Linked DNA regions of Homo sapiens. The protein of the gene in region 1 interacts with the protein of each later gene in a pairwise test. Each region holds a gene or a part of one and is shown in the gene's direction. Other genes may lie near its edges. The genes, in order: PTDSS1 and TSHR.

Evidence for each region.
Region 2: the proteins of PTDSS1 (region 1) and TSHR interact in a two-hybrid assay, tested with the Homo sapiens proteins (one large-scale study listed by BioGRID and IntAct).

The regions. Positions count from the first base shown.
Region 1 is NC_000008.11:96,292,725-96,296,547, forward strand, and holds part of PTDSS1 (phosphatidylserine synthase 1), read left to right. Parts: intron 1-2,373; coding exon 2,374-2,532; intron 2,533-3,823. UniProt on the Homo sapiens protein: Catalyzes a base-exchange reaction in which the polar head group of phosphatidylethanolamine (PE) or phosphatidylcholine (PC) is replaced by L-serine. Catalyzes mainly the conversion of phosphatidylcholine.
Region 2 is NC_000014.9:81,140,298-81,143,713, forward strand, and holds part of TSHR (thyrotropin receptor isoform 1 precursor), read left to right. Parts: intron 1-2,642; coding exon 2,643-3,416. UniProt on the Homo sapiens protein: Receptor for the thyroid-stimulating hormone (TSH) or thyrotropin. Also acts as a receptor for the heterodimeric glycoprotein hormone (GPHA2:GPHB5) or thyrostimulin. The activity of this receptor is mediated by G proteins which activate adenylate cyclase.

The DNA.
Region 1 (3,823 bases):
TTTCTTCCTGTGAAAGCTCAGTGGAGCAGATTGCTTTAGACCTGGGCTGAATTAAGCAAGCCTGTCTTCCCCTAGCCCATTAGACAACCACAAGCTGCTTCTGCAAAGCAGGGCCTGACCCACAAAAATTGCTGCATGGCTGGGGGAGCTGATGAGAACCTGTGCTGTCTGTAAGCAAATAATTTCCAAAGAGGACCCAAAAGAGGTTGGATCTCTTTCTTCTTCCAAAGTCAGCAACTGCCCCAGAGAGGAGTGAAGAGATAGTTGGGCTGGAGACCTGGCGTGTGTAGTAGTGGAGATCCTTCTACATTGGGACGGGCATGCTACCCAACCCCTTTCTTCCCACCTCCTGCCCCAGACACCCTTACACACATGCATGCACGTTCCGTGATCTGATTATGATTTTCAAGATCTCTCTGTAGTCGTAAGCTAGATGTGAATACCTAGGTGCTTATTATAGCATCATCTATACTTTGTTATATGCCTGACACATTCCACAGTTTTCAAAAGCTATTATTATGGAAGTCTAAGCAAGAAATAATAGTGGCAGCGAGATGCATAAAAGAACAACCTGGGGAGGTAAAGTGAATAGGACTTGGTATTTGGTTAGGTGTCCAGCAAGCAAGGCAGAGGGTAAGGCCGCCAAGATCAGCCTAGGACCAGTTGGGAAGTCAGCAGAATCTGTCTTTACCCATCTTTTGCTCACAGGCATGCACCTGTCCACTTGACCCCCTTTCCAGGCTTCAGCTCTACACTGTCTTCAGTTAAAGCCTGTTCCTCCTGGTTCCCAGGGTTCTGCCTGCATGCAGCTCTCTGGCTGCTTTAAACTGCAATGCCCTGTGGCCCTTCCAGGACAAGGACCTCAGGTCTTATGAGGGGATAATTGGCAAATCTGTTCATTACTAACTATACTGCAAATAGACGGATTGGTCTTTATGATTTTTAAAATGCCTTTCCGCATGTCAAAGCATAGAGCTACTTAATAGAGTGTAAAGTCCTCCAGAGTTATCTGCAAGCTGTGATTACTTTAAGAGCAGCCTTCTAAAAACAGATCTTACCCCTTCCTTATCTAACCCTACACAGTGTATTCCAGAGTAAAGAAGAGGGTGGGGTGGTTGAGACATTTGAGGTTGACTGGACGTGGCCCTGCTCCTTAACCTAATATACAACCTGCTTCAGCTAAGGGCATTTCCCTCTGTCAGCCTGTGATTCTCTGTGACAAGAACGTGCTGTTCCAGAGTCCGGGAAGAAACTTTTCATCTTATTGCAGGGCAGTTTGTTTCTTTTAAAGCCTTATCTTGACTTACCCTATTGAATTTTATCCTCTTTTCTCCAGATTTCCCATTTACACAGCATAATCTCACATCATACTGCTTCTCAAAAAATAGAATTCTTAAAAATGTTTGTTCAGCTTTGCAAGTTGAAATGCATTTTATCTGAGAAGGAAATCTGATGTGTGGTGGGTTTCAGAAGAGACAGGGAAGCTCTTTTGCTCTCAGAAAGTATCATTTCTGGAATTTAAAACTATTATAGTTTATAGGAATTTTTTTCAGCTGGCTGATAATAGGGGGTGAATATTTGCCAACTCTTACTACTGCCTGTCAAATTAATTTTGGGAAGAAAGGATGTGAAATGTAGAGATTCCCAGTAAATGTTATATTATCATATTGTCATGCAGTCATATGATAAGATATTAAATTACTTAGAAATACGTATAATCAAAAACAAAGATATTAGAAATGGAACCAACATTCTGAAAAGCTTTGTAATTTTTAATATTTAAATTATGTAGTATCCGATATATTTTTGGGGAGGGGAGTTCTCTTTTAATTACTGAAGTTGGGTGCTTTTCTTCTTTTTTCTAGCATAACTATTTAAGGCTTTACATTTTCCTCTAAAGTTCAATTTTTACGTGGTGTATTTTCGTTATCATTATGACACGTTAAAAAAAATTCCTATTATGATTTCTTCTTTAATCCATGATACTTAGAAATGTGTGTTTAAATTTCCAAATCTATTGGGAATCTTTTATTTGTGCTTTAGTTACTGGCTTTAATATTGTTGCCCTGTGGTCTGATGACATGATCTATGTGATACCACTTCTTTAGGATATGTTGAGCCTTTGTAAAATTATTTTGCTTCTCATTTTAATGCAGCTTTTGCAATTCAGAGCAAAGCAGTTTTGATTTATAAACTCAAATACTTGTCTATTTTCCCTCAAGGCCCTTAAGTTATTAAAACTTTCTCATTTGTTACTGAGCAGGACTTATTTGTTGTCAAGTTCATATCTATTCTTTTTATTTACCGGCAGAATCCTGGAAGCAAGTTGATTTCTAGAGTTTCACTAATTATTCTCTTTTTTATTTTAAATAGGAGTATGCTGTGAACTGCCATGTGATCACCTGGGAGAGGATTATCAGCCACTTTGATATTTTTGCATTTGGACATTTCTGGGGCTGGGCCATGAAGGCCTTGCTGATCCGTAGTTACGGTCTCTGCTGGACAATCAGTATTACCTGGGAGCTGACTGAGGTAAGAAGGAGGGCATTGGGGGTTCCCCAGACTGTGCCATGTGTGTAGTTTATATATAGGAAAAAGTATGTCAGTTAACAGTCAGTTAATCCGTTCTCCAGCCCCTGTGGTACAAAACAGTATTTAAACCATCCCATAAGAATATTTAATACTTCTGTTTAAAAAACAAGCAAATATTAAAAATACCTCCTTGTTAACTTAATAAAGTGCACCTCTGTCCTGCAAGTCTTAAAGAGAAACAAATGAAATAAAGCTAAAGAATGAAGTTAAAATTCCAAGTAAGACAAATAAATGGGAATGAGGAGACCTGCTTAGAATTCAATAGATCAGTTGACCTACTAACTAGCTTCCAGTTTGAGATAATAGAATTGTGTGTTCAAGTACTATAAGAGCATCCAGGGTATTTGGTAGCTGCAAAATGGATTCCAAATGTTAGCTCTAATATGTCAGTAATCAAAAGTTTGTTGCATTTACTTAATAAAAGAGTTATAGTCTTGAAAAACCATTAGCAAAATGAAATTTTGGGAACTAACTCATTATTGTTCTATTATTATGAATCATTCCCAGTGAACAGAATTCGTCCACATGCGCAGTATACTTCTCCATGCTCATCATTGTCCTGACCCTAACTTAGAGACGTGTGCCAACTAGATGTGGCTTCTGTTAATGTGCCTCTCACTGTTCTGGAGGCCAGAAGTCCAAGATCAAAGCGTCGGCAGGACTGGTTCCCCCTGGGGCCTTTTGGAGCATTTTTTTCAGGCTCCTTCTCTATCTTTGTGGTTTGCTGGCAGTCGTGGTCCCTGGGCTTGTTGATGCATGACCCCTTCCTGGTCATGTGGCATTCTCCCTGTGCGTGTCTGAGCCTTCATGGTGTTCTTTTTTTTTTTTTTTTTTTTTTTTTTGCGACAGAGTCTTGCTCTCGCCCAGGCTGGAGTGCAGTGGCACGATCTCAGCTCACTGCAAGCTCCGCCTCCTGGGTTCACGCCATTCTCCTGCCTCAGCCTCCCGAGTAGCTGGAACTACAGGCGTGTGCCACCACGCCCAGCTAATTTTTGGTATTTTTAGTAGAGACGGGGTCTCACCATGTTAGCCAGGATGGTCTCAATCTCCTGTCCTTGTGATCTGCCCACCTCAGCCTCCCAAAGTGCTGGGATTACAGGCGTGAGCCACTGTGCCCAGCCCCATGTGTTCTTTTTCATAAGGACACAAGAGCATTCCCTTTTATAAGGACACAAGTCATATTGGATTAGCAGCTCACTGTACTGCCTATGATCTCATCTTAACAAAGTAC
Region 2 (3,416 bases), on another chromosome or scaffold:
CATAGCTCCCTGGTTACATGCCTGCAGGCTTTGGAGTCAGCTGGGTTTATACCGCAGCTCTGCCATTTTTCAAGCTGTGTTATCCCAGCCTAGTTACTTAACCACTCTGAGTCTTTGGGAATGGAGATCCTAATACTAACATTCATAGCAGTTTTGAGAAGATTAAATGAGAAACTGAATGGAAAACACTGGAATGGAATGGCCTGGAATATTATAAGATCTTCATTAATATTAACTATGATATACAGTATGTGCACATCAGGCTGCTTATGAGCCTGCGAAGGAGGAATTGCCTTCATTTTCTCTCCAGGCTTTCTCTGATTCTTTTACTTTTTTGCTTTTACTCTGCATTATTTCCCCCATTGTGTCTTGTACAATCTCCTGTTCTCCTAATCCACCTTCATCATCTCTATTCAGTCCTCCTCAGCTTCTATGTATTTAGTGATTGACTTACTACACACATAATTGCAGTCAGGAAAATATCAGATCTAGGTGTGAGGGCAGAAGCTAAAACAGCCATACAAAGAAGGCCAATATGGTGGCCGGGCACAGTGGCTCACGCCTGTAATCCCAGCACTTTGGGAGGCTGAGATGGCCAGATCATCTGAGGTCAGGAGTTCGAGACCGGCCAGGCCAACATGGTGAAACCCCGTCTGTACTAAAAATACAAAAAACAAAATTAGCCAGATGTGGTGGTGGGTTCCTGTAATCCCAGCTACTGGAGAGGCTGAGGCAGAAGAATTGCTTGAACCCGGTAGGCGGAGGTTGCAGTGAGCCGAGATCGTGCCAGTGCACTCCAGCCTGGGCAACAAAGCAAGATTCTGAGATTCCATCACACACAGGCACATGCACACACACACACAAAGAAGGCCAATATGGGCATCATAGCTGCAAAAAGCCAGGAGTGGGGTAGAGGATGGTGATAGTGGACTCTACACTGATGCCATGCGGCATTGAGAAGGACTGGACAAGGGCTGGGTGGGAGGCTTAAGTGGACCTCAGGGGCAGGGTCTAGATTTTTCCCTAGCCTCCAGTTGAGAAGAGCAAGTCCATTGGACATTTTAAGCAGAACCCAAGAGATCACTCAAACTCTGCTCAGCAGCTGAGGCAAGTTAAAGAATCCCTTTTGTTGTGAGTCTGGTGAGCAAGGAAAAAACTAAATCTTATTTCCACAAGCATGCCTGTATGGTAGTGTCCATTTGTTCATTTGTTAAACAGATATTTACTGAGCACCTTCTATGTGCCTGGCTGTTGTAAATAGAACAGACAAGAATTCCCTCTTGTATTTTGCTTACTGTCTAATGGAGGAAGTCAGAAAATAAACAGGCTGGCCGGGGGCAGTGGCTCACTTCTGTAATCCTAGCACTTTGGGAGGCAGAGGTGGGCGGATCACTTGAGGTCAAGAGTTCAAGCCCAGCCTGGCCAACATGGTGAAACCCTGTATCTACTAAAAATACATAAATGTTTTATTTTTAAAATATTCAGTTTGAAACTAAATAATGATGAGTAGAGGCAGCCATGGGTTTTTCAGGCAATGGGAACATAGGGTTTTAGAGCTTTGAATAGGAATAATAATAACAATAACCACCATATGGCACTCACAAAGCTGCAGGTGCTATTGTAAGAGCCTTAAAAAGATAAATTCATTGAATCCTTTAATAACCCTATATGAAATAGTCACTCCCATTGTCCCATGTTACAAATGAGTTAACCAAACTTCATGGGCCTACCCAAGCTAGTCAATAATTGAGCCAGGTTCCCACCAAGGCGACTGGCTCCAGCATCCACATTTTTTTTTTAAACAGAGTCTCACTCTGTCGCCACTCAGCCTGGAATGCAGTGGCGCAATCTTGACTCACTGCAACCTCCACCTCCCAGGTTTAAGCGATTCTCCTGCCTCAGCCTCCCAAGTAGCTGGAATTACAGGCACGTGCCACTACGCCTGGCTAATTTTTGGATTTTCAGTAGAGATGGGGTTTCACCATGTTGGCCAGGCTGGTTCAAGCTCCTGACCTCAAGTGATGTGCCTGCCTTGGCCTCCCAAAGTGCTGGGATTGAGTCACTACAGGTGTGAGCCAGCACACTTGGCCACTTTTTTTTTTTTAATCACTGTTCTTGAAGTGGTTGCAGAAGAGAAATAAGACCAATGCCACTGGAGCACAGTAGGGGAGGGGAGGTCATAGGAATGATGTCACAGAAACAGGCCTGCCTGGATCCTGTAGAACCTTATAGAATTATGTACATCATAGTAAGTAGTTTGCACATTTTCATAAATGTGGGAACCATTCGTGGGTTTTAAACAAGCATTCTTTTTTTTTTTTTTTTTTTTGAGACAGGGTCTCACTCTGTCATCCAGGCTAGAGTATAGTGGCCTGATCTCGCCTCACTGCAGCTTTGACCTCCCCAGGCTCAGGTGATTTTCCCACCTCAGCCTCCCGAGTAGCTACGACCATAGGCACATACCACCATGCCCAGCCAATGTTTGCATTTTTTATAGAGATGGGATTTCACCATGTTGCCCAGGCTGGTCTCAAACTCCTAGGCTCAAGCAATCCACCTGCCTTGGCCTCCCAAAGTGCTGGGATTACAGTCATGAGCCACTGCGCCCAGCCTGGCACTGACTCTTTTCTGTTGCCTTGCAGAATCCTTGAGTCCTTGATGTGTAATGAGAGCAGTATGCAGAGCTTGCGCCAGAGAAAATCTGTGAATGCCTTGAATAGCCCCCTCCACCAGGAATATGAAGAGAATCTGGGTGACAGCATTGTTGGGTACAAGGAAAAGTCCAAGTTCCAGGATACTCATAACAACGCTCATTATTACGTCTTCTTTGAAGAACAAGAGGATGAGATCATTGGTTTTGGCCAGGAGCTCAAAAACCCCCAGGAAGAGACTCTACAAGCTTTTGACAGCCATTATGACTACACCATATGTGGGGACAGTGAAGACATGGTGTGTACCCCCAAGTCCGATGAGTTCAACCCGTGTGAAGACATAATGGGCTACAAGTTCCTGAGAATTGTGGTGTGGTTCGTTAGTCTGCTGGCTCTCCTGGGCAATGTCTTTGTCCTGCTTATTCTCCTCACCAGCCACTACAAACTGAACGTCCCCCGCTTTCTCATGTGCAACCTGGCCTTTGCGGATTTCTGCATGGGGATGTACCTGCTCCTCATCGCCTCTGTAGACCTCTACACTCACTCTGAGTACTACAACCATGCCATCGACTGGCAGACAGGCCCTGGGTGCAACACGGCTGGTTTCTTCACTGTCTTTGCAAGCGAGTTATCGGTGTATACGCTGACGGTCATCACCCTGGAGCGCTGGTATGCCATCACCTTCGCCATGCGCCTGGACCGGAAGATCCGCCTCAGGCACGCATGTGCCATCATGGTTGGGGGCTGGGTTTGCTGCTTCCTTCT